Homo sapiens: one gene and its partners. The protein of the gene in region 6 interacts with the protein of the main gene of each other region in a pairwise test. Each region holds a gene or a part of one and is shown on either strand. Other genes may lie near its edges. The genes, in order: TXNDC9, MEIS2, TNPO2, AKAP9, PLEKHB2, C1orf94 and IPO11.

Region 1 (3,500 bases), on a different chromosome or scaffold from region 6:
CTTGATCTCACAACCCAACAGCTTCATTGTTAGTTAACACCTTTCAAGAATTGATTGCCTGGTATTCATTGACTAAGAGAATAAAAATGAAACAAAATATTGAGATGGTGAAATCCCTTGTGAGGAACAGTGAGAGAAGGGATTAGGCAGGTAGAAAGGTATCAGAGAAACCTCTGCCCTTATGGTACACAACCATCTCGCATTGGCACACATTCCTCAAGTTGCCAACCTCTGACAAATATGATGAGGTGATATATAAATATACTAGTATGTAAAATATTATTTGTCCACTTGTTTTTTTTTTGTTGTTTTTTTTTGTTTTTGAGACAGAGTCTTACACTGTCACCCAGGCTAGAGTGCAATGGCAGGATCTTGGCTCACTCCAACCTCCACCTCCCGGGTTCAAGTGATTCTCCTGCCTCAGCCTCCCGAGTAGCCAGGGCTACAGTCACCCACCACTACACCCGGCTAACTTTTGTCTTTTTAGTAGAGACAGGGTTTCTCCAGATTGGCCAGGCTGGTCTCAAACTCTTGACCTCAGGTGAACCACCCACCTTGGCCTCCCAAAGTGTTGGGATTACAAGTATGAGCCACGGCACCCGGCCTCACTTGTTTTTTTTATGTCTTTCCCAACTAGATTGTTCGTTTTGTAGAGGCAGCGCATTTGCCTGTATTGTGACCTACTGTTCTCTGGGATCATAGCCCTAAAGCAACTGCCTGACGCATAGTAGGTGGTCAATAAATACATTTGATGGTGTATAAACAGTGCATCACCAGGAGTACTCACCTTCAAACAGAACTGAAAAATCAAAATCATCCAGTGAACTTTATATATTAGCAAAGTTCCTAGCACATAGTAGGCAGGATGCTTTCATGTATATTATCCCTAGAACATTCACAATAATCTTCAGAGGCACTTATTATTATTCCTGTATTTCATGTATGGAAACCAAGATTTGGAGAAATTGACTCACCTAGTATCACTCAGATACTAAATGATAAAAAAAAGAGAGAGATTGGAACCCATGTTTTAAGCCTATTGCTATTTTTTTAATTTTTAACTTTTGTGGGTAGTAGTAGGTAAATATGGGGTACATGAGATATTTTAACACAGGCATGCAGTGTTTAATAATCACATCAGGGTAAATGGAATATCCATCACCTCAAGCTTTTATCCTTTGTGTTATAAACAATCTAATTATGCTCTTTTAGTTATTTTTAAACATACGTAAAGGCCTATAGCTATTTATACCATGACTGTTGTTTTGGATTTTTAAAAATTGATTGACGGGTTGGGCGCCATGGCTCATGCCTGTAATCCCAGTACTTTGGGAGGCTGAGGCAGGTGGATCATGAGGTCAGGAGATCAAGGCCATCCTGGCCAACATGGTGAAAACCCATCTCTACTAAAATACAAAAAGTTAGCTGGGCATGGTGGCTCGTGCCTGTAGTCCCAGTTGTGCAGGAGGCTGAGGCAGGGGAATTGCTTGAACCTGGGAGGCGGAGGTTGCATTGAGCTGAGATCGTGCCACTGCACTCCAGCCTGGCAACAGAGCAAGACACTCTGTCTTGCTCTTTAAATACAAATTAAAATTAGCCAGGCAATGGTGCGGGTGCCTGTAATCCTAGCTTCTTAGGAGGCTGAGCCAGGAGAATTGCTTGAACCCAGGAGGTGGAGGTTGCAGTGAGCAGAGGTCGTGCCACTGCACTCTAGCCTGGGCGACAGAGCGAGACTCCATCTCAAAAAAAAAATACGTTCCTTACTGCAGTTAAAGTATGGAGTTGATTTATTTACAAATTTTCAGGAACATATTTCTCATATAAAGGTTGATTTATCATTTGTTTTGAGCTTTATTTAAAAACCATTTATTAATTTGTTCTCTCTTACCATTTTTCACTGAAATCTCGTTACTGAACTACATGAGTAACATATGAAAAAACATATCCGGGGAAAAAGTGATGAGGCACCAAGGTTACACATAACTTATGTTAGAGCCAAACTTAGTTCAGGAAAAACTACATCAAGTGCACAAAAAGCTTACTGGTAAAAATAACCATGAAGTATTTTGTGTGTGAGTCATCTAGAGGTAGTTCTCAAGCTTTATTTGAGCATAAGAACAGCTGTATGTTTCCCAACTCCACTGCCAGAGAATTTTGATTCATCTGGATATTTTAAAAGTTGACGGCAGGCTGGGTGTGGTAGCTCACACCTCTAATCCCAGCACTTTGGGAGGCTGAGGCAGGTGGATTGCTTGAGGTCAGCAGTTCAAGACCAGCCTAGTCAACATGGTGAAACCCCATCGCTACTAAAAATACAAAAATTAGCCGGGCGTGGTGGCAGGTGCCTGTAATCCCAGCTACTCGGGAGGCTGAGGAAGGAGAATCGATTGAACCCAGGAGGCAGAGATTACAGTGAGCCGAGATCGCGCCACTGCACTGCAGCCTGGGTGACAGAGTGAGAGTCCAACTCAAAAAAGATGAATAAATAAAAGTTGATCATAATGAACACCTGGGGTTAAGAACCACCGGTCTAAAAGATTGTTACAATAGTCTGTTTTAGAAACACTCGTGAATTGGCCAGTTGAAAATGAATTTTTTGAGACAGAGTCTTACTCTGTCGCCTAGCCTGGAGTGCAGTGGTGTAATCTTAGCTCACTGTAACCCCCACCTCCCAGGTTCAAGTGATTCTCGTGCCTCAGCCTCCTGTGTAGCTGGGATTTCAGGTGCCCATCATGACGCCCAGCTAATTTTTGTATTTTTAGTAGAGATGGGGTTTCACCATATTGACCAGGCTGGTCTTGAACTCTTGGCCTCAAGTGATCTGCCCGCCTCAGCCTCCCAAAGTGTTGGGATTACAGGCGTGAGCCACTGCATCAGGCCAGAAAATAAATTTTAATGTAAAGAAGATGTCACTTTTTTTGTTTGTTGAGATGGAGTCTCACTATGTTGCCCAGGTTGGAGTACAACGGCACAGTTTCGGCTCACTGCAGCCTCCACCTCCCAGGTTCAAGTGATTCTCCTGCCTCAGCCTCCCAAGTAGCTGGGACTACAGGCATGCACCACCACACCCAGCTAATTTTTGTATTTTTAGTAGAGACAGGGTTTCACCGTGTTGGCTAAGCTGGTCTCAAACTACTGACTTCAAGTGATCCGCCTGCCTCAGCCTCCCAAAGTGCCAAGATTACAGATGTGAGCCACCGCACCTGGCCAAGAAAATCTCACTTCTGTTTCCGTCTTCATTGGAAGATGGCTTAATAAAAGTTACTACTGGTAGGCTGGGTGCAGTGGCTCACGCTTGTAATCCTAGCACTTCGGGAGGCCGAGGCAGGCGGATCACAAGGTCAGGAGATCAAGACCATCCTGGCTAACACAGTGAAACCCCGTCTCTACTAAAAATACAAAAAATTAGCCGGGCATGGTGGCAGGCGCCTGTAGTCCCAGCTACTTGGGAGGCTGAGGCAGGAGAATGGCATGAACCAGGGAGGCGGAGCTTGCAGTGA
Region 2 (3,500 bases), on a different chromosome or scaffold from region 6:
CATATGGTGTTTGTTTGCAAAACAATGGACTTCTTTATTACTTAAGAAAGTGTAGCTCAGTTGTCAAAAAAGAAAGTGATCAGCTATGTAGAGGTGAAAACAAAAGGAGAGTTGAAACTGCATCTTTCTTCCCACCTGTCACCTGAAATGTTGCTGAGGAATGAATATCTGACTAGATCACAAAGACTTCCAGAAGCATCCCTCCTCCAATCAGAAAAAGAACTTAATTATCTACTCTTTCCCCACCACTTTTACAGCAACCAAGGAGGACTGACCTGATATTTCCACCCCAGGAACCGTTTTTATCAGCTCACCTTGAAACCAGCAGAGATGCTCAGGAGGGTCAGAGAAGGCTCTTCTCCTTGAAGTTTCTAATAGAGGACAACACTCGGCAGGGGTTTTACCCCCTTTTATGTGCTACTAATCCTGGTTTTTGTGTTTTGCGTTTTTTATTTTTATTTTTTTTTCGGTATAGGCTAACTCTTCGGGTAAAACGAATTGCTATTTTTTTCCCTTTTTAATTTCACTCTTTTATTCTTTACATCTGGAGGTTGTTCCCTTATTTATGTCTTTCTCTCCAGTTCCCCCAAACACTCCCTTACTCACAGAGCTGCAAGGCATCATGGTTCTTAGTTCTCAGCAGGAGAACTCCACACTGTCTTCAAACAAATACTTACGGGGAAGGTTAGAGGTTCACTCAAAGGTCATTTCTTTGGATACTAGTCAGAATGTTTACATTAGTAAAAACGAGGTCCGCTCAAAAGGTTGTTCAATGGGGGACACACAACAATGCAGAACATTAAAAAAGCATTCTGTGAGCTAGCAGGTCTTTATAGAAGCACTGAACTTGGAAATGCCACTCCAGTATAACATTTTCAACTAGTTACCATGGCATGGACTGGATGTTCACTAGCAGTTATGGCAATGGCCTTTCTTTACCCACTTCTCCTAAGCAAATATGAATAGAAGCCTCTGAAGGTTTTCACTAGGTCCTTTTAAAAAGGGTCACAGAGATTTTGCTTTTTTCACTTGGGCACCATTTAGCCTCTCTGGATTTTTGTTCTCAAACAATGTTTTTGATCCATAGTGCTATTTCTTGACAGATTCATAATTCTACCACATTCTTTCAAATCACACAGAATTTTAAAAACATATGGGCCCCAAATTTTCAGAAATCTCTTAACATGCAACTCCTGCCAATTGTCAATTCCCCTGATCTTGGGATATTTTATTGACATCATAGATATTACTATGAAAATTAACAATTAATGAGCTGACTGTAAGAAAACCCTGACATTAAAAAATGAAATTACCGCCTCCTACCAGTACTGATGACTCAGAGGCCACTCTTAGAAAATACACTGACATACATAACATGGAGCCATTTAAATTATAGACTAAAACAAATCAAACTAGAAATAATTTTTATTTATTTAATATTTGTAAGATGAAATTTCCATATATGGTCTTTTCTCAAAATTACATGAAATAAATTTTTTTCCACATCTTCTAATCTATATTTTTTAGAATGACCTTTTTCAATGCTCAAGTAGTAAATAGAATATCAAGCTTTGATTTTACGTAAAATTTGAAGAAGCTAAGTTGAAAATCAACTCATCTTCAGTCTTTCAAGGTTCAGGCTCCATTCATATGGAAAAATGTAACTTGCTGGTTCAAAGACAAAAGACTTGTCTTAAAAAGACTCAAAAGGTTCCATGGATATTAAATGGGCCTTATAAAATAACATTTTGATGAGTTAAGTGTAAATGAATCAGACACATATGGATTAAGTTATCCTTGAATTTCACACGGGTTTAAAAAATAAGGGGAAAAGAGGGTCTTGGCAAAAAACATTTTGGACTTTGCCAAACCCAAAACATTTGAAAAATTGCTGAAGACATCCAACTAACCAAAATGCAGCAAGCTGCACCCAACTTTAATGAAAACCCCCACAAGTTATTTCCAATCCAAAGACTGTTAGATTTTTCATCTGTATCTGATATTAAAAAATTCTCTAAGTTTTAATGTCATACCAGAATGATTTCGAAGTTGCAGGCATATAATCTACTTTTCTATCGGTTTAAACAATTTAAGTTACAAAGTCTTCTTCAATATTAAACAGTTCTTAAAAAACATTCTGAGTTTTTTTACAACTTGTCCATAAAATGTACCAGTAAGCTTAGTGTCTAGCTCTATCTAGATTTCACTTAGAAAAAAAATTTTCATTAGCCTCATTGTGACTTTTTTTAAAGGGCTACACATAATTTCATTAGTGAGTCCTTAGGGAATGAATACCCTAAAGAGCCCTAGTTCCATTGATTTGTATTGAACACAAAGTTAGTATCCAGGCCCATACAAAAGCTTGGGAGAGTATCTACTAAGACTATCTACTTTTTCTCTAAATTTTACTTAAGTAGAAAATGCATGAGTATGTGTGATCCTTAAAAATTATATACTAAGACTGTTAGTTTAAAAATAACTTAATTATAGAAATAAATTCAATGATGTTCCAAGAATCACGAGGCCTTTCTGACTCAACTCAGAGATGAAAAAATACATTAAAACAAATAAACCCAAGGTAGCAAATATCACTGTAATCTCATCTTACTGCCTTGCTGAAGAGCTATTTCCCAGAGACCTCTCCTGTCCTCAGAAAGTCTAAACTTGGTAGCTTTGCATACTTTTCTACAACTGAACTCTGACCATCATGATTTTTCTTTAAAGACTTTTTACTCCGAAGTATGGTTCAGATTGATAGAAGTAGATTTAGGTGTCATTCCTGTTTGTTGTTGGTTTCTTTTCTTTATTCCTTTCTTTCTCCACCCCCCAATCTTTTTAAATGGCGGATAAATCCCTTCTTTCTGGTTCACTAACTTCATGCCACACCTGGTAACCAACTCCTTTTGGAGGCATTCCTTTTGTTAGAAAGTGCAGGCCTCCATGGAGTTACCTGGAAAGCTGCCATCCCTGAACACTCTGAGGAGGAATCAAGAATAGCTGGAATTGAAGATTCTGCATGGATTGCTTTGCGCAGGGAAGGGGACTGAACCGTTGAAGAGAGATCAGATCAACTGGGGAAAGGCGTAGGTAGCTCAGTGACCGGGGACCTGTTAAAACATGAAAAGGCCCTGCTTCCCTACTGTCCCCAGCCCTGGGACCCATCAGCCACAGTGCTTATTCACAGCACTTGCTCCTGGCTGGTGTTTCAAATGATGAAACTTCAGCCTTGGCAAGTCACTTATCAAATTTCTCCATGTTTTCTTACTTTACAAAAAAAGCAAGTATTTCTCTGTGCTATGGTTACAGCTGAGAGTAGGATTTTCTCAGTAAGATACATTAAAATGGTTAAATCAGTGAATAAGGCAAGCTTAATGCCTTTGAAGATGAACTTGGGCACGCAAATGATGGAGTCATGTCGCAGACATAAGTTTTCCACTGGTGACCAGACAATGGCTCCTTTCTCACAGACAACCGTGAGCAAAGTAAGGTAAATGAATGAG
Region 3 (3,500 bases), on a different chromosome or scaffold from region 6:
ACAGAGCCAGGTAAAGGCAGGCACAGGAGGGGAAACAACAGAAGCCTCTCATCCCAAAGCCCCGGGTTATCTTTATTTTTTTTTGAGGCAGAGTCTCGCTCTGTCGCCCAGGCTGGGGCGCAGTGGTACGATCATGGCTCACCGCAACCTTCACCTCCTGGTTCAAACAATTCTCCTGCCTCAGCCTCCCAAGTAGCTGGGATTACAGGCCTCTGCCACAATGCCCGGGGAATTTTTTATATTTTCAGTAGAGACAGGGTTTTACCATGTTGACCAAGATGGTCTCAGTCTCCTGACCTCGTGATCCACCCGCCCTGGCCTCCCAAAGTGCTGGGATTACAGGCGTGAGCCACCGCGCCCAGCCAAAGAGCTCCGTGTTATTGCGTTAATTCAATTCATGCATTAATTCATGTGTTAATTGAATTCATGTGTTAATTCAAAATTGGCTCCGTTACATAGTGAGTGGGGTTTTATGGGGCAGCAGTGACCCAAATGGAATAAAAGCACTTTGCATTTGAAACAGTTCTTAAGATGTTTGTGAGTTTTCTTTTTTTTTTTTTTTTTTTTTTTTTTTTGAGATGGAGTCTTGCTCTGTTGCCCAGGCTAGAGTGCAGTGGTGTGATCTGGGCTCACTGCAGCCTCTGCCTCCCGGGTTCAAGTGATTTCCTGCCTAAGCCTCCCAAGTAGCTGGGACTGCAGGCGCCCGCCACCATACCCAACTAATTTTTATATTTTTAGTAGAGACGGGGTTTTACCATGTTGGCTAGACTGGTCTTAAAATCCCGACCTCACGTGATCCCACCTCAGCCTCCCAGAGTGCTGCGATTATAGGTGTCTGGCCGTTTATGATTGTTCTATTTCTCCTTATTTTTGTTTAATTTTTTAATTTATTATTATTATTTTTTTGAGACGGAGTCTTGCTCTGTTGCCCAAGCTGAAGTACAGTTGCACAATCTTGGCTCACTGCAACCTCCGCCTCCCTGATTCAAGCAATTTTCCTGCCTCAACCTCCCCAGTAGCTGGGACTACAGGCGTGGGCCACCACGTGTGGCTAATTTTTCATATTTTTAGCAGAGACGAAGTTTCACCGTGTTAGCCAGGCTGGTCTCGAACTCCTGACCTCAGTTGATTCAACCGCCTCGGCCTCCCAAAGTGCTGGGATTACAGGCGTGAGCCACTGTGCCCAGCCATTTTTAACAATTTTTTAATGTTTTCTTTGAGACAGAGTCTCGCTCTGTCCCCCAAGGAGGAGTGCAGTGGTGTGATCTCCACTCACTGCAACCTCTGCCTCCCAGGTTCAAGTGATTGTCGTGCCTCAGCCTCCCAATAGCTAGGACTACAGGTATGCACCACCACACCTGGCTAATTTTTGTATTTTTAGCAGAGATGGGGTTTTGCCATGTTGGCCATGCTGGTCTTGAACCCCTGGCATCAGGTGATCCACCCGCCTTGGCCTCCCAGAGTGCTGGGATTACAGGCTTAAGCCACCACACCCAGGGTTTTTTTTTTTTTTTAAAATATCACGAACTCTGCTCTTTTATTTAAAGAGAACAAAGATAATAGCACATTGCCAATAATCCAAGACACAAGATCTATGTTTACCAGTTTGAGCTCAACTCCTATAGATCTTTTTACCATAAACATGTAATACAGGCCGGGTGCGGTGGCTCACGCCTGTAATCCCAGCACTCTGGGAAGCTGAGGCAGATGGATCACCTGAGGTCAGGAGTTCGAAACCAGCTTGACCAACACAGTGAAAGAAACCCCGTCTCTGCTAAAAATACAAAAATCAGCCAGGTGCGGTGGTGGACACCTGTAATTCCAACTACTTGGGAGGCTGAGGCAGGAGAATCTCTGGAACTCGGGAGGCAGAGGTTGCAGTGAGTCAAGATTGCGCCATTGCACTCCAGCCTGGACAGTAAGAGCAAAACTCCGTCTCAAAAAAAAAGAAATTAGCCAGGCCTGGTGGTGAATTCCTGCAATCCCAAGCTACTCTGGAGGCTGAGGCAGGAGAATTGCTTGAACCCGGGAGGCAGAATGTTGTTGCAGTGAGCCAAGATCACACCACTGCACTCCAGCCTGGGCGATAAGAGGGAGACTCCATCTCAAAAAAAAAAGAAAAAAAAAAGAGGCCAGGCGTGGTGGCTGGCTGGGCAAGGTGGCTCACACCCGTAATCCCAGCACTTTGGGAGGCCAAGGCAGGCAGATCATGAGGTCAGGAGATAGAGACCATCCTGGCCAACGTGGTGAAACCCTGTCTCTACTAAAAATACAAAAAAATTAGCTGGGCGTGGTGGCATGCACCTGTAGTCCCAGCTACTCAGGAGGCTGAGGCAGGAGAATCACTTGAACCTGGAAGGCGGAGGTTGCAGTGAGCCAAGATCATGCCACTGCACCCCAGCCTGGCGAGAAAGCAAGACTCAGTCTCAAATAAATAAATAAATAACACAGCTTATGTAATCTATTAACATATGTAAGCGTATTGTGTGATATATACCCTATTAACATGAGATATGAGATACATTAAACACATATTACATGTCGAAACATTTCTTTAGACAATTTTTTTTTGAGACAGGGTCTCAGTCTGTTCTCCATGCTGGAACGCAGTGGCGCAATCATGGCTCACTGCAGCCTTGACCTCTCACCTCAGCCTCCCAGTTAGTTGGGACTATAGGCACTTACCACCACGCCGGCTAATTTTATCAGGTTTTTTTTTTTTTTTTTTTTGGTAGATATGAGGTCTCACTATATTGCCCAGGCTGGTCTTGAACACCTGGGCTCAAACGATCTGCCTGCCTCAGCCTCCCAAAGTGCTAGGATTACAGGCATGAGCCACCACACCTGGCCTTTTTAAAAAATTTTTTGTAGAAAGAGGGTTTCCCTATGTTGCCCAGGCTGGTCTCGGACTCCTGGGCTAAAGCAGTTGTCCTGCTTCAGCCTCCTGAGTAGCTGGGATTACAGGCGTGCACCACAGTAACTAGACAAATTTTAGACAAATTTTGAAAGCTTACAAGGTTGAGGGTTTTTGCTGCCATGCCTGAAATTTTTGGCACAGGTCTGGATGCTGAGGCAATGGTATATGATGCCTCCAACGGACTCACAAAGCCCTCCTGTAACAAGTTTTATGTCCCACCGGGACCATGGGAGCCTGAAAACCCCACCGATTACAGAACACCAGGTTGAATTTGATGAAACACCACCTACCACGGGTTACTACTGACTCTGGCAGGCCAGCCCGGCAGCCAGGAACAGGTTTAAGGCCCAGACACACCCTGAGTGACTGTAAGGAAGTGGCATCAATCTTTCTGTACCTCAGTTTCCCCATCTTCGAAACTGGGATCCGGCACCCAGCTCATCAGGTGGTGGTGAGGGCCAAGGATGTTTGTCTACATAAGTGCACGAGGCAAGCATGCAGCTGTGCCTGCTGTTATTATCATTGTTGCTGTAATTATGCTTACAACATGAAAGAACTACCTGCCTGCAAGAATGAACAAGAG
Region 4 (3,500 bases), on a different chromosome or scaffold from region 6:
CGGGGGGAAAAAAAAATGCTTGCTAAGTAAAAGTTCATAGCTGCAGTCGTAGGCATTCAAAAATGTTGGTTGAACAAATGAACACATAAATGTCTCCAAAGTCCTAGTGCCATTTCTACCAGACCAGATAGCAGTATTATAAATTCTCTTTCTCCCTCTCTCCAGCACACACACACACACACACACGCACACACACACACACACCCCAGACACCAAACCACTTTTATAAATAAGTTTTGAAAAATTCCGTAGCTTTTCCAAATTATAGTTTTTAAATGGATGTTAAGCAATTACATAAAGTGACTAATCTTAATTTTAGTGGAATCTTACTAAGAAATGAATATAAATAATGTCCCTTATTGTTTAGCAATTTACCATAACCTTTTCTAGCTATATTAGAAGAAATTCATTTACATTTCAATATTCAGTAGCCTATAATAGATATTTTGTAGACATAGTTTAGCTTTTACTATGAACCTTTTTATTTATAAAATAAGAGATGTTTTTGTTTGAAAAAATTTTTGTTCCATTCTTGTCATATTTCAATCACTTGGATGTATCCTACCTTTTTCACTTCCTCTTTCCATGAGCTATCATTCAACTTTCAGTTTCACTGACAGGGCATCACGTTCCTTCCTCCACATTCTCTCTCTAAACACCATGTTTTGCTTCATTCCGACAAAGCCTAAGCTGGGTGCAGTGGGTCACCCCTATAATCTCGGCACTTTGGGAGGTTAAGGCAGGAGGATTGCTTGAGCCCAGGAGTTCAAGACCAGCCTGGGCAACATGGTGAAATCCCATCTCTACAAAAAAATTTTAACAATTAGCCAGGTGTGGTGGTGCACATCTGTAGTCCCAGGTGCTCAGGAGGTTGAGGCAGGAGGATCACTTGAGCTCAGGAGGTCAAGGCAGGCTGCCACTCCAGCCTGGACAACACAGCGAGATCTCGTCTCAAAAAAAAAAAAAGCCTGAAGGTTATGAATTAGTTTTAAGTCACAGGCACTGCACTATTGCTGCAATAAATGTTGATGAAGCTATCAAACTGCTGCATCTACTCGGAATGCTAAGTAAGCTCTGCCACATCTAAGTATGAAAAACTAGAATGCTTAAAACAGGAAGGGAAAACACTTTCTTAGCTGTGGAACAAAGTATCTGAAATATGCAAAGAACAGTTTTACACCATAACCAGCTTTGTCTATCACAGTGGAAACAGTAACTGAAAAGTCCTGCTATCAATAATCAATATACAGCTTGCATGGAGCACCATCCTTTTTTTTGTACACAATTGGAACTACTCTTCACACTGAAAATGTTTGTTAAACAAAAGTCATGTAATTACAAATTACTGAATATAATAGACAGTAGTTTTTTATAATTATTCAGCAAATAATGCCCATTATATAAAATACTGAATAACTTTAAAAAGTATACCTAATGCAAATTTACATGAGTAATAATTTTATATTAAATATACAACTGTCCTCTATTTAATTCTGTTCACTTAAATTACAATACTTCCTTTACGTGCCATGAATAATTATACTTGGAAAAAAATGAAGTCATTTAAAATGGAGTTAAAATAGTTTGGTTCAACACAAGGACAACCTATGTAGTGCCATCCTCGTCAAAACACTGCAGAGGGAGCTAGCCCAGCTCTGAAAATATTTACTTAATACATAATGCAGTAATGTCTCACATCTCCCAGGGTCATGCTTCTTGCAACATCAATACTGAGGAAATAGCTGAGGACCCAACAGTAAACCAAAACAACCAACAAGCAGCAGAAAAACTAAACTGCCCTAAAGCCCACTGGGCAGGCTACACTGGCCTCTGTTTTTGTTTTGTTTTGTTTTTTGAGACAGAGTCTTGCTCTGTCACCCAGGCTGGAGTACAGTGGCACAACCTCGGTTCACTGCAACCTCCACCTCCTGGGTTCAAGTGATTCTCCTGCCTCCACCTCCCCAGTAGCTGGGATTAGTACCTGCCACCACGCCTGGCTAATTTTTTTGTATTTTTTAGTAGAGACGGGGTTTTGCCATGTTGGCCAGGCTGGTCTCAAACTCCTGACCTCAGATGATCCACCCACCTCAACCTCCTAAAGTGCTTGGATTACAGGTGTGAGCCACTGCGCCCCACCTGTTTTGTTTTTTATACTTTTTTCTTTTTAGAGATGGGGTCTCACTACATTGCCCAGGCTGATCTAGAACCTCTGGGCTCAAGCGATCCTCCCACCTCAGCCTCCCAGTGTTGGGATTACAGGAGTGAGCCATCACACCCCGCCTAAGGTCTTTGTTGTTGTTGTTTTTTCTTTTTACATAGTATTCTGTCAACCTCAGTTCTGGGTTCCTTAGTCGTAGCAAATCTAAAACAGCAAATTAGGAAAAGAGGCAGATGAGGAGTAAGAGCATGCCCATAGCAATACGAACTAACAGCAAGGAAAGAATAAGCACAACAAAAACAGAAAGGAAATCTATAAAATGTCTAACAATATAATCCCAACTATATTATACACTCTGCACTGAAATAGCAATTACAATTCCAGGCCTACGCTAAAATAGGAAACCTAGTTATTCTGTGCCTCATTTTCCTGTTCTGGATAATGGTCATACACTATAACATGTGTTTAATATAATGTATTTGATAAGCCTTTATGTTTTTTAAAAAATGGCATTTGAGGCTGAGTGCAGTGGCTCATGCCTGTAATCCCAGCACTTTGGGAGGTCGAGGCAGGCAGATCACTTAACGGCAGGAGTTCGAGACCAGCCTGGCCAACATGGTGAAACCCCATCTCTACTAAAAATACAAAAATTAGCCAGGCGTGGTGGTAAATGCCTGTAATCCCAGCTACTTGGGAGGCTGAGGCAGGAGAATCGCTTGAACCTGGGAGGTGGAGGCTGCAGTGAGCCAAGATCCTGCCACTGCACTCCAGCCTGGGAGACAGGCTGTCTCAAAAAAAAAAAAAATGGCATTTGAATATTCTTTTCTGGTCATAAAAGAGATACATTGTATCAAGAATTTGGAAAATACTAAAAGTATAAAGAAAATTAAAATTGCCTATAAGCCACCACCCAGAGATAGCCACGATTTACATCTTGGTGCTTTTTTTCAGGTGTCTTCATATTTAAATATGTACATATACCTTTTCCTGGTAACTTTTTTCTTTTTAACCTGGCATTATTTGTGGGCATTTTCCACACTCAAAAAGTCTTTGTAGAATTATTTTACATATCATAATTTATTAACCCATTATTACAGATTTGGGGTAGTATAAAACATTTTATACAGTATACTATATATTATACTGCATACATGACAAACTGTTTAAAAAGTGATCATTTATAAGGTTTAGATACAGAAAGGGAATTTTCCAATGGAACTGTTTATCAATAAATTACCCCCAAAAAGATTTGTAAGTTGTGGTTTGCAAAACTAGATTATCAAATACAATACTTAAGTCCAGTGAACAAATGAGACATTTGCAGAATGAAGTCTCAGATAAA
Region 5 (3,500 bases), on a different chromosome or scaffold from region 6:
TTTTTTTTTTTGAGATGGAGTCTCACTCTGTTGTCCAGGCTGGAGTACAGTGGTGTGATCTTGGCTCACCGCAACCTCCACCTCCCAGGTTCACGCCATTCTCCTGCCTCAGCCTCCCAAGTAGCTGGGATTACAGGTGCCTGCCACCACGCCTGGCTAATTTTTGTATTTTTAGTAGAGACGAGGTTTCACCATGTTGGCCAGGCTGGTCTCGAACTCCTGACCTCAGGTGATCCATCCGCCTTGACCTCCCAAAGTGCTGGGATTACAAGCTTGAGCCACCACACCCAGCCCAAGTGTTCTAGCTTTCTAAGGAATGCAGTTAAGTTGCAAAATTCCCCAACTGATTTTGTATGTGGCATACCATTGTCATTCACTTTGCTAAAGGGTATCATACTGGATTATTCATATATCTTATATAGATTTTGTTGTCATATCAGGTGGAAGAGTCTAGTAGGGACTTTGGTCTGCCAATTCAGTTCGATTATTTCAGAACATTTTTCTTGCCTTAGATTTGTAATTCTCTCTTTTGGGTTGTACACTTTATGGACATCAATAATCTTTCTGAACTTTTTTTAGTCTAACATATCTCTGATCTTTTCATCTTTTTCCTGTCACTGAGAGTATCTCCAGTCTTTTCTTCCATGCCAATGATTCACTTTTCATTTGGGGTTGTATTGAAGGGAAGACCACTTTCTTCAGATTATAACGTGAATGGCACCCTCTTGACAGCAACAGACCTTCTAAGTTACAGACACAAAAGAGCAGAAAAGAAACATAAATCTCTGCCCTCACACAGCATATATTCTAATGAAAGCAGATGATGAACAAGATAAATAGTTGATAGATGGTGAGTGTGTATGGGGACAGGGAGATACAATTTTAAATATGGTGGCCAGGAAAGCATTCCTGAAGACTCTGCTCCTGTTTCTTGGGTTTTATTTTCCTCCACTCTAGGAGCTTTTCCTGAGGCTTGCATTTTCCTTTTCTTATTTTTCCTTCATGGTATATCTGCATAGTTGCCAAGCCACTTCTTTACATCCTGCTCACGTTTAACATGGGAAGTGATATCTAAAACTGCTGTTTGCTCTCATAAAGTATGAGTTATTTCTCCTTGACACGCTTCCTACCTAATCTGGTATCAACTGGTAGTTCCACCCTGTTCTACCTCAGTCCAGCCCAGCAACAGTTTGATGGCTAGGTGTTACCCTCACAATCAACATTCTGTAATCTGAGGGCACAGGGCTAGAAGAGAAGGACATTTCTTCTGAGACCGAGTAAGTCTTTTCTGAAAACTCTGGGTCCTACACTCTCTTCTGAGCATATTCCTTTGAATGTCCCATGCTAGGGCTCACTTCACCAGACAGAAAATTACCCAACTCCTGTGAGCTTCAGTGCCTTTCACTGCCCTGCAATGATGAGTCCTGGGAGAACCGTCCAGCCTCTGCTGAGGCCCCAAGGACATCACATTCTTAAGGATTTTTTCCCTAGCTTTTCCAAAAAGTAACTTACACTTAATCAGCATCACTCCAGATTACAGGGTAATACTGAAAATTTGCAAGATTTAATTAACTCATCTTGTCACTGCTTCTGGGATTCGGGTAGGATTGAAGAACATCTCAGTAGAATCATCTATTTCTTTCTTTAACTGTTTGTAGTTTGTGCTTGAGATCAAACTTCTTTATTTGGTTGCACCATTGAAATGTTTTCCCCTCAGGGAAGATGATCTCTAATCCATTTCACCATCTTTCTCAAAAGTCTCTATTATGGGTTCAATTGTGTCCTCATGAAAAAGATATGTATAAATCCTAATCCCCAGTACCCTCAAATGGGACCTTATGTGGAAATAGGATATTTGCATATGGAATCAAATTAAGATAAGGTCATAGTGAATTAAGGTGGGTCCTTAATCCATTATGATTGGTGTCCTTTATAAGAAAAGAGAATTCTGGACACAGACACAGCCGAAGAAGGCCATGTGACAACAGAGGCAGAGACCGGAGTGATGTGGCTGTCAGCCAAAGAACACCAAGGACTACCAGCAACCACCAGAAGCTAGGAAGAGGCAAGAAAGGATCCTACCCAGCATCTCAGAGGGAGCAAGGATCTGCTGACACACTGATTCCAGACTTCCAGCCTCCAGAACTATGAGACAATGAATTTCTGCCATTTCCGTCACTCAGTGTTCAGCAATTTGTGACAGCAGCCCTAGGAACTGACAGTTTCCTTACTCTTTACTTTCTTGCTTTTCTGGTCATTTTATTTCAACTATGCCCGTTACCCACTGTGAATCTAATAATGAAAGACAGCATGATGAGACTGCTATTCCTTTCTGCCATTTTCACCACAATGGGATCGGCCTAGGCAGTCTGAGAGAGGCAGAAACTAGAATTGGAAAAGCGACTCTTGCATTTCTCTCATACATCCACTGAGTCCCTTATTCTGATGCCTGAAAGAAAACTCCACGCCCTTTCTTTTCATTTTTTGGTAATCAGAAGTTAAAATAGAAAATACTTTTTAAATTAAACACATAAGAAAGCAAAACTTACAAGCAATCATCTGTGCTTTCTGCACAAAGACTAATTGTTTTCCCATCTCGACAAACAATCTGGAGCATGCAGTCTTTTGACTTTCCATCCGGGGGCTGAGTATCTATGAAAAATAAGCAGAATAAAGGAACTTTTTTCAGGATTTCTTCTTACATTTTCTAAGAACTACCAGCTCAGAGAAGCAAAGGACTAGACAATAAATCAAGTGCTACATCTATGAAAGAACCCTCTGCCTTTCCAAGAATGCAGAAAGAACATAGCTAGGCTGACTGACAAGACCAGCTGCCAAGATGACGTCCACAAAATATATTCGGCTCACTGCAACCTCTGACTCCCGGGTTCAAGCAATTCTCTACCTCAGCCTCCTGAGTAGCCAGATTACAGGCACCTGCCACCACACCTGGCTAATTTTTTTGTATTTTTAGTAGAGTTGGGGTTTCACCATCTTGGCCAGGGTGGTCTTGAACTCCTGCCCTCGTGATCCACCCACCTCGGCCTCCCAAAGTGCTGGGATTACAGGCATGAGCCACCATGCCTGGCCAACATCCCAGATTTTAAGCAATTGACTGGAGTCACCATCAAACAGAAGCCAGTTTCTGAGTACAAAATCAACGTAGTCTAGGGTGGCCTGTGCTTCCTGAGGTTCCCAGAGCTCTGGCTCCCTCTCCACGAGAACGAGGGACGTGGACTGAGAACACTGATATTTCCCGACCATGTGGTTCATAATCTAAGTGCCTGGGGCCCCACTGTGGTCGCCCCTCTGAGATGGAGCCCTTCTTCAATCTGTTAATGAAAGCAGAACAGGGAAGGAAGAGGACCAAGCTCCCAGCAAGACAGAGGAAGAGCAGAAGACAGAAGTTGGCCAAGACAGGCCAGCTTACCCCGACATTCCTGCCCCGTGCGGATGTTGATGCAGTCCATTGGCATGTGGACCTTATCCTCGATATTCTG
Region 6 (3,500 bases):
CTGGGCACTGGGGAGACAAAGATGAGTAAGACACAGACCTTGCCCTTAAGAAGCCCATAGTGCAGTAGCGGAAGAGGAATTGTTGCCACAAGGCAGCACACGATATGTGCCAGGTGCCCACCACCTCATCAGAATCCCACACTGGAACTGGGCTGATAGCCCCGATTAAGGGGCTGTGTCCTTCCCTCTGGCCAATGGTCAAGAAGAGAGCTGATTTTAAACAGATTCTTCCATTCTATCGTCCTCAAAAGATCTATCCCATGTAGCTCTCAGAGCTGGGGAAGCATTTGTCTCTTATGATGACCCCTTCTGCTTTCTCTTAGAAGACAATATGAGTTATGAAAACCGAATGCTATGATCTCCCTTTATGCCCTGGCTGCCAAGAATCTCAAACCAGATGCTGTTATCAGTTGAGCAGTTTCCCTTCAGCCTAAGTTTCCTGGCATATATATCTCCTTGTCCCATATCAATCATGTCCTGTTATTTTATCCATGATAATGACAATGATGATGGTGGAATGGTGATGATGATGATGAACATCGAGTCCTTCTCTTATTCCCAGTGCTGTGTGAGCTCTACATATATCATTTCATTTGCTTCCATAGTAATCCCTTGAAATAGTCGCTGTGACTTTTCCCATTTTTTCAGATGAGGAAAATAGGGCACAGAAAGTTTGGGGAACTTGCTTACAGCTAGAAAGTGTGCTGGAACTCTAATCCACCTGTCTCCTTATTTTTTGTTATCTGGGCCACCTTAAAACACTTAGGAAAGAGGTGGGACATAGTTGTTTATTTCAATTAAAAAGAGGAATGTGGGAAAAAGAGAAAGAAAAATGTTGAATGATGTGAGCAACAAAGAATTCAGAGGACAACACACTTATTCTAGGTCCTTAAGGATGGATAAGATTTAGATAGACAGAGATATGGGAGAAGGGCATTCCTGGTAGTGGAATAACATGAGCAAAGGCAAGGTGACATGCACCTGCTGGTAGCTCTTGTTGGTTTATAGAGCATGTGCAGGAGACCAGCAAGACGTGCATCTAGAGATGGAGGCAGGGCCACTACAGAGACCCCTGAAAACCAGGCCCAAGGGGCCAGAGGACAAGGCGAGCCATGAGAGATGTCTGAGCAGTGCTGTTGACCTGCTTCAGAAGATGAAATTGGTGAAGGGTGGAGGGCATCCTGGAGGGAAAGGCACCCAATGCAGTGAGAAGAGATGTGGTGAGGGTGGCAGAGGAGAGACGAGCAGGGAGGCAAGGCACCAAAGGCCATCATGAAGGGGGACTGCCAGGACGTGTGGCAGGCTGGAGGAGGGAAGAGCCAGTGTCTGCCAGCACTAGCTCACTTGACAAACAAGAACAGGGGTGCATCAGTGTCAATGGGACTGGGGTGCTGAGACCCAGCATTGGGAAGCTCAAGAGAGGGAAAGGCTGGGTGCAAGGGCTCACGCCTATAATCCCAGCACTTTGAGAGGCCAAGCCAGGTGGATCACCTGAGATCAGGAGTCCGAGACCAGACTGACTAATATGGTGAAACCCTGTCTCTACTAAAAATACAAAAATTAGCCAGGCATGGAGGTGCATGCCTGTAATCTCAGCTACTTGGGAGGCTGAGGCAGGAGAATTGCTTGAACCCGGGAGGTGGAGGTTGCAGTGAGCCAAGATCGCGCCACTGCACTCCAGCCTGGGTGACAGAGCGAGACTCCATCTAAAAAATAAAAATAAATTTAAAAATAAAGTAAAATAAAGAGAGAGGGAGACACTTGCTTAAGGGTTGGGTCTCAGAGCAAAGGGTTCCAACTTGTGGCCCACGGGGTCTCTGAAATCATTCCCAAATACTGAGAGATGTGAGGATGTGTTTCAGACAAAAGCTGCACAGAAGCTTTTTCTCAGATTTTCAAAGAGGTATTGACCCCTCCAAGAGGAGAAAACACTAGTTGAGATTAGACTCCAAAGATCTTCAGAGCTGGCTTCTAGTCTGAGACATCAGCCTGAGTTTCCGTATCTGAGTCTTGTCTTTATCACTCCCATCACCAGGTTTCAAGCTTTTTAAAGAATAATGCTAAAAAAAAAACCAAAAAAAACAAAAGAGGCTATGTATTCCAAGCAACTTTTCCAGAGAAGTCGGGTTCACCTAATTGTTTAAATAACAGTAGCACAAAGAGATGTTTGTTGGGAGAGCCATTCAAGCAAGGAAGCCGAGTGGATTCCCAAATATCACTTGCTCACCAGTGTGGAGAACTGGCCAATGGAAGCCAACAGTGAAAGTTTACCAAAATAAGTGCAAAAAAGCCTTCTTCCTTCTTGCAACAAATAGCCTCAGAAAGCTGCCAATCAATAAACCACTTCTGTTTTTCAAAAAATGCTTAAACAGATTTCTTTTATTTCAGTAGATTTATCTCCCTACCTGAGTCTGGCTTGGAATAATGCTCACCAAAGCCTTTCCACTCTGCAGACCAAGTTTGTTATGACAGGTAAATGGGAAAGTCTTGGGTGCTGACAGAGGGCCTGGAAGCATCCAGGGAAGCCAACCACACCCAGCAAGCTCGAGCCACCTTCTCCCGGTCACTAACACATGCTACACTTCACTCCCATGTAACTTCTCATCTTTCCCTGCGCCTGCTGCTGGGCTCTTTCCATAGGCTGTTCTTTCTCTCTTCTCAAGACCTAGCTGGGGGACATAACTATGGAAACCTTTGCAGTTATTAATCATGACATCCCTGCTACCTGCGGACTACACCCGCATCTTTCATCACACAGTGCAGGGGTCTCATCTGTTGCTGCTTCAGATTGCTTCCCTCAGAGGAAGACTTCCCTAAGTACCAAGCCCAGTCCAGTAGTCAAGTACAATGTTCAGTCATGTGTCCCCTCAGTGCGCTTCCATGGCACTGGCACTTCATCACCAGAACACTTACTATAGTGTGTTGTGATCTGCCTTTTGCAAGATGTTGAAAGTTCATAAAGGAGGTCAGAGACTGTCCCCAGCTTTTCCACCATTGTATTTTTTTCAGACATTTCAGTAATAGGTGCATACTAATTTTTTTTTTTTTTTGAGACGGAGTTTTGCTCTTGTTACCCAGACTGGAGTGCAATGGCACAATCTCGGCTCACTGCAACCTCTGCCTCCTGGGTTCAATCAATTCTTCTGCCTCAGCCTCCTGAGTAGCTGGGATTATAGGCACCTGCCACCACGCTCAGCTGATTTTTGTATTTTTAGTAGAGACAGGGTTTTACCATGTTAGCCAGGCTGATCTCAAAACTCCTGACCTCAAGTGATCCACCCACCTCGGCCTCCCAAAGTGCTGGGATTATAGGCATAAGCCACCGCACCTGGCAATATTTGTTGAATGTCATTGTTGTCAGATGTATCTGTGTTCATGCCACCCACTAGACTGGGAGCTCTTTGAGGAAAGGCTTCTGTTCTGCTTATCTCTGTGTCCCTGGGACCCATCATACAGCCTGGTACTGCGAAGGCAATTGTGTTTGTTGAATGAATTCATGA
Region 7 (3,500 bases), on a different chromosome or scaffold from region 6:
TCCTCCTGCCTCAGATTCCTGAAGAGTTGGGACTACAGGTATGCGCCACCACTCTGGTCTAATTTTTTTTTCCTTTTTTTACTTTTTGCAGAGACAGGGTCTCACTATGTTTACCAGGCCGGTCTTGAATTTCTGGCCTCAAGCGATCCTCCCACCTTGGCTTCCCAAAGTGCTAGGATTAAAGTGTGAGCCACCATGCCCAGCAAATGTCTGGAATCTTTAATAGAGTGTCATTCTCTACTAAGAGCTTTAGAAAGATTAAGCTTTCCCCTATCAATTTTTCTTGCAATTAATACTTACCCTCAAACTATATTTCCAAGAATCTCCTCCTGTTTCTTCCACTGCTGCAATTAAAAATATGTAATAATGACATTTTCAACATCTTGGTTTAGAAAACAAAGATTTTAATAACATCAGTATAATATTTTTGTGAACTCTTTTAAACATAACATTAAGAGCAAAGCCTTGGGAACACAGGCCTTACACAGATTTTGTTACTATATGCTACAGATCACAGTTGTGTATCTCACAGTCGTCTATTAAGTGCTTACTATATCCATAAGCATTCTCATTTTCGATAAAAATTCTTTATGGAAAAAAGCTCAAAGTAGTTGTCATTTCCAGGGTATCTGCTATCACCTGATCCAATATCACTAGAATTCTGAGAATCATTTCATTTCAATACAGTAATCATGTTTCACTAGGTACAATGATTACTCACACTCTCCATAAATTTCTTGAATTTAAAGAAAAATACTTCAGGGCTCTTAAAAATTTAGGGACTCAACACTTTATGTTACAATGTTGTATGTACTATATAAAGAAAGCAAATTGAAAAAAGATGTTTCAAAAAAAGCAAAAAAAAAAACAAGAAAAGACATGTTGTACAGTACAATCCTGTATTAAAACTAAAATTACTTTTAAAAACCAAAAGCATGGCGAAGATAAGTATTACAAAAACTTTTGGGCACTCTTAAAATATTAGGAAACGTGTAACTACACAAGGGTACACAACCAAAGAGAAAAGGGAGGCTAAAATCTAGCCTATGTCCCACCATAGCTTAAGTAATTCACATACAAGTAAGTACTTTATTAGACACATGATTCCTTGATTTTCTATAGCAAGGGTCCCAACAGACTTATTCTACTTATCTATCTAGTACTAAAATTCAAACAGATATAAAGATGTCCTGTCCAAAAAAAAAAAAAAAACTATTCATCAAAAACCTCCAAATTTCTTTGCAAGAATTTCTACAAATAAAAAATAACATGGAATGAATCACAAAATAGAAACTGACAGGGTAAGAGAGAGTTAATTTTATATTTTTGTTTGAAACTACATGATATATTTGTAAAGGAATCCAAAAACTAAAAAGGTCTTTTCCTGGACAAAATTCTACAACATATTTGCATAAGTCATTCATTTTCTGCTTCTCAATTTGTTCTAATGGATAACAACGAAAGAGTAAGTTAATTTTAAAACACCAAGATTTCCAGATCAAAAGTGCTGTATGAAAATACAATATTATACCTATCACTCAAACAGATATTTATAGAAAGGGGAGAAAAGTCATTCTAACACTAAAAAATTAATTCTTACTAAAGCCTTCTGGGTCTTCTTCCCACATTGTCAGTTCTTCTTCAGTTAATAGGAAATAATGAGAGACTAATCTTCTACATATCTCTGTCAAAGTAGGATATGTGAAGAATGCCATCTTAATCTTATGGGCTTCAAGAGTTTCAGGGCTGCTATCTAGAAAAATGAAATTTCCAAGTTAATTGTATAGCCAAACATTGTAGCTACATTGGATTATGTAACTTAAATAAATAAAAAATACACTCTCAGGGAAGAAGATACACTTGTGTATAAATTTTCATTTTTATTATAAACAAATCTCAAAGATACTCTTTCCTTACAACACACTCACATCAATCTTGCCTCTGGCATTACAGCTTATATATTACCATGCAATACCATCACGGCATACTGAAATAACTTCCTCATAATGTAGAGGGTGTGGGGGGTGTGTGCATGTGTTTCTCTCTCCCCCACCACCAAGACTTCTTCATTCATCTTGGCACACACGCATATGAATGAATTCCAAATAATACAACAATTTAACCTGTCTAGAAACAATCACACTTTATATAAAGTCAGAGAAAGCTTTTATTTGTTCAAATGAATACACCCTACAATATGAGCTGCAGTGATGACTATAGTACCTAATTCTTAAAGTCCCTAAGCTTCAACCAATTTGTGCTACAAAAAATGGCTTATTAAATGCACTATGTTGTTTTTAAAAGCTAGTATAAACATACTAAAGCCTATAATCCTTATATCTTTTTCATGTCCCAGCAACAATTTATTTTTCAGACTAAAATGACATTTTTTAAAAAGTTTGTAATTATAGCAATTATATCACACTTAAGATTAAAATAATTCTTTTAAACTGCCAATAAAGGAATTACCTTCAAAATTTTTGGATGGCTTATAAGCATAATTTTTGACAATCATCTTAATAAGATTCATACATTGGACAATGAATCGTTCAAATGTAACGCCTTCACCAACTTCTGTAAAAACATAGCTTACAGAAAATTCCAGTGATCTCTGAATTAGAGGAGTAAATGAAAAAGGATGCTGATCCAAGAAGTCCAAAAGCTGTAGAAAAATAAATAAATAAAAATTAAAATGTATTTTCCCCAAATTCATATTGGAATATAATCACTCCAATTATAACTTTACTAATAATCATTTAGCAGTTTGAACCTTAGTGTGGAGTCTATGTTCACTCAGTTTTACATTATCATAACTCTTCTTGAGGCACATCATATAATGAGGATTATGTTAGATTATATCTGATAATAAGAACTTTCTATTATTTTCAATACAGAAACCAAAACAGACTCAATTCATACTTAATTTTATAACAATGGGTGAATATGATACAAAACGCTTAAATATACAATAGACCTTTAAAAGTAATAGACTAAGGTAAAGAATTTAAATATTATCTTCCCTTTCCCATATGAATTATATTTTAATGTTATCAAATAGCTAAGGAGGGAGATGTCTTCTTTATAGAAGAATTTCAGCTAATAAATGCAAAAGGAATAACAGAATTAGAATGCCATCATTGTGTAACTCCTGATCAAATAATGGATCTAGGCAAATGATGATCAACAGCTGTTAAAATAAGAGAAAAGCTGCTGAGGAAATTTGATAGATCACTCATCAATCTTAGCCACAGAAAAAGAAACCAATGAGAACAAAGACACAATGTACCAGAGTCTCTGGGACACATTTAAAGCAGTGTGTAGAGGGAAATTTATAGCACTAAATGTCCACAAGAGAAAGCAGGAAAGATCTAAAATCAACACCCTTACATTACAATTAAAAGAACTAGAGAAGGAAGAGCAAACACATTCCAAAGCTAGCAGAAGGCAAGAAGTAACTAAGATCAGAGCAGAACTGAAGGAGACAGAGACACAAAAAAACC

Evidence for each region.
Region 1: the proteins of C1orf94 (region 6) and TXNDC9 interact in binary tests that used the Homo sapiens proteins (3 or more experiments, as listed by UniProt).
Region 2: the proteins of C1orf94 (region 6) and MEIS2 interact in binary tests that used the Homo sapiens proteins (3 or more experiments, as listed by UniProt).
Region 3: the proteins of C1orf94 (region 6) and TNPO2 interact in binary tests that used the Homo sapiens proteins (3 or more experiments, as listed by UniProt).
Region 4: the proteins of C1orf94 (region 6) and AKAP9 interact in binary tests that used the Homo sapiens proteins (3 or more experiments, as listed by UniProt).
Region 5: the proteins of C1orf94 (region 6) and PLEKHB2 interact in binary tests that used the Homo sapiens proteins (3 or more experiments, as listed by UniProt).
Region 7: the proteins of C1orf94 (region 6) and IPO11 interact in binary tests that used the Homo sapiens proteins (3 or more experiments, as listed by UniProt).

Annotation. Positions count from the first base shown.
Region 1 is NC_000002.12:99,322,834-99,326,333, reverse strand, and holds part of TXNDC9 (thioredoxin domain-containing protein 9), read left to right. Parts: intron 1-3,500. UniProt on the Homo sapiens protein: Significantly diminishes the chaperonin TCP1 complex ATPase activity, thus negatively impacts protein folding, including that of actin or tubulin.
Region 2 is NC_000015.10:36,898,050-36,901,549, forward strand, and holds part of MEIS2 (homeobox protein Meis2), read right to left. Parts: intron 1-3,500. UniProt on the Homo sapiens protein: Involved in transcriptional regulation. Binds to HOX or PBX proteins to form dimers, or to a DNA-bound dimer of PBX and HOX proteins and thought to have a role in stabilization of the homeoprotein-DNA complex.
Region 3 is NC_000019.10:12,706,933-12,710,432, forward strand, and holds part of TNPO2 (transportin-2), read right to left. Parts: intron 1-3,500. UniProt on the Homo sapiens protein: Probably functions in nuclear protein import as nuclear transport receptor. Serves as receptor for nuclear localization signals (NLS) in cargo substrates.
Region 4 is NC_000007.14:91,943,862-91,947,361, reverse strand, and holds part of AKAP9 (A-kinase anchor protein 9), read right to left. Parts: intron 1-3,500. UniProt on the Homo sapiens protein: Scaffolding protein that assembles several protein kinases and phosphatases on the centrosome and Golgi apparatus. Required to maintain the integrity of the Golgi apparatus. Required for microtubule nucleation at the cis-side of the Golgi apparatus.
Region 5 is NC_000002.12:131,125,836-131,129,335, reverse strand, and holds part of PLEKHB2 (pleckstrin homology domain-containing family B member 2), read right to left. Parts: coding exon 3,431-3,500; intron 2,653-3,430; coding exon 2,550-2,652; intron 1-2,549. UniProt on the Homo sapiens protein: Involved in retrograde transport of recycling endosomes.
Region 6 is NC_000001.11:34,183,407-34,186,906, reverse strand, and holds part of C1orf94 (uncharacterized protein C1orf94), read right to left. Parts: intron 1-3,500.
Region 7 is NC_000005.10:62,482,263-62,485,762, reverse strand, and holds part of IPO11 (importin-11), read right to left. Parts: intron 2,663-3,500; coding exon 2,470-2,662; intron 1,754-2,469; coding exon 1,601-1,753; intron 345-1,600; coding exon 301-344; intron 1-300. UniProt on the Homo sapiens protein: Functions in nuclear protein import as nuclear transport receptor. Serves as receptor for nuclear localization signals (NLS) in cargo substrates.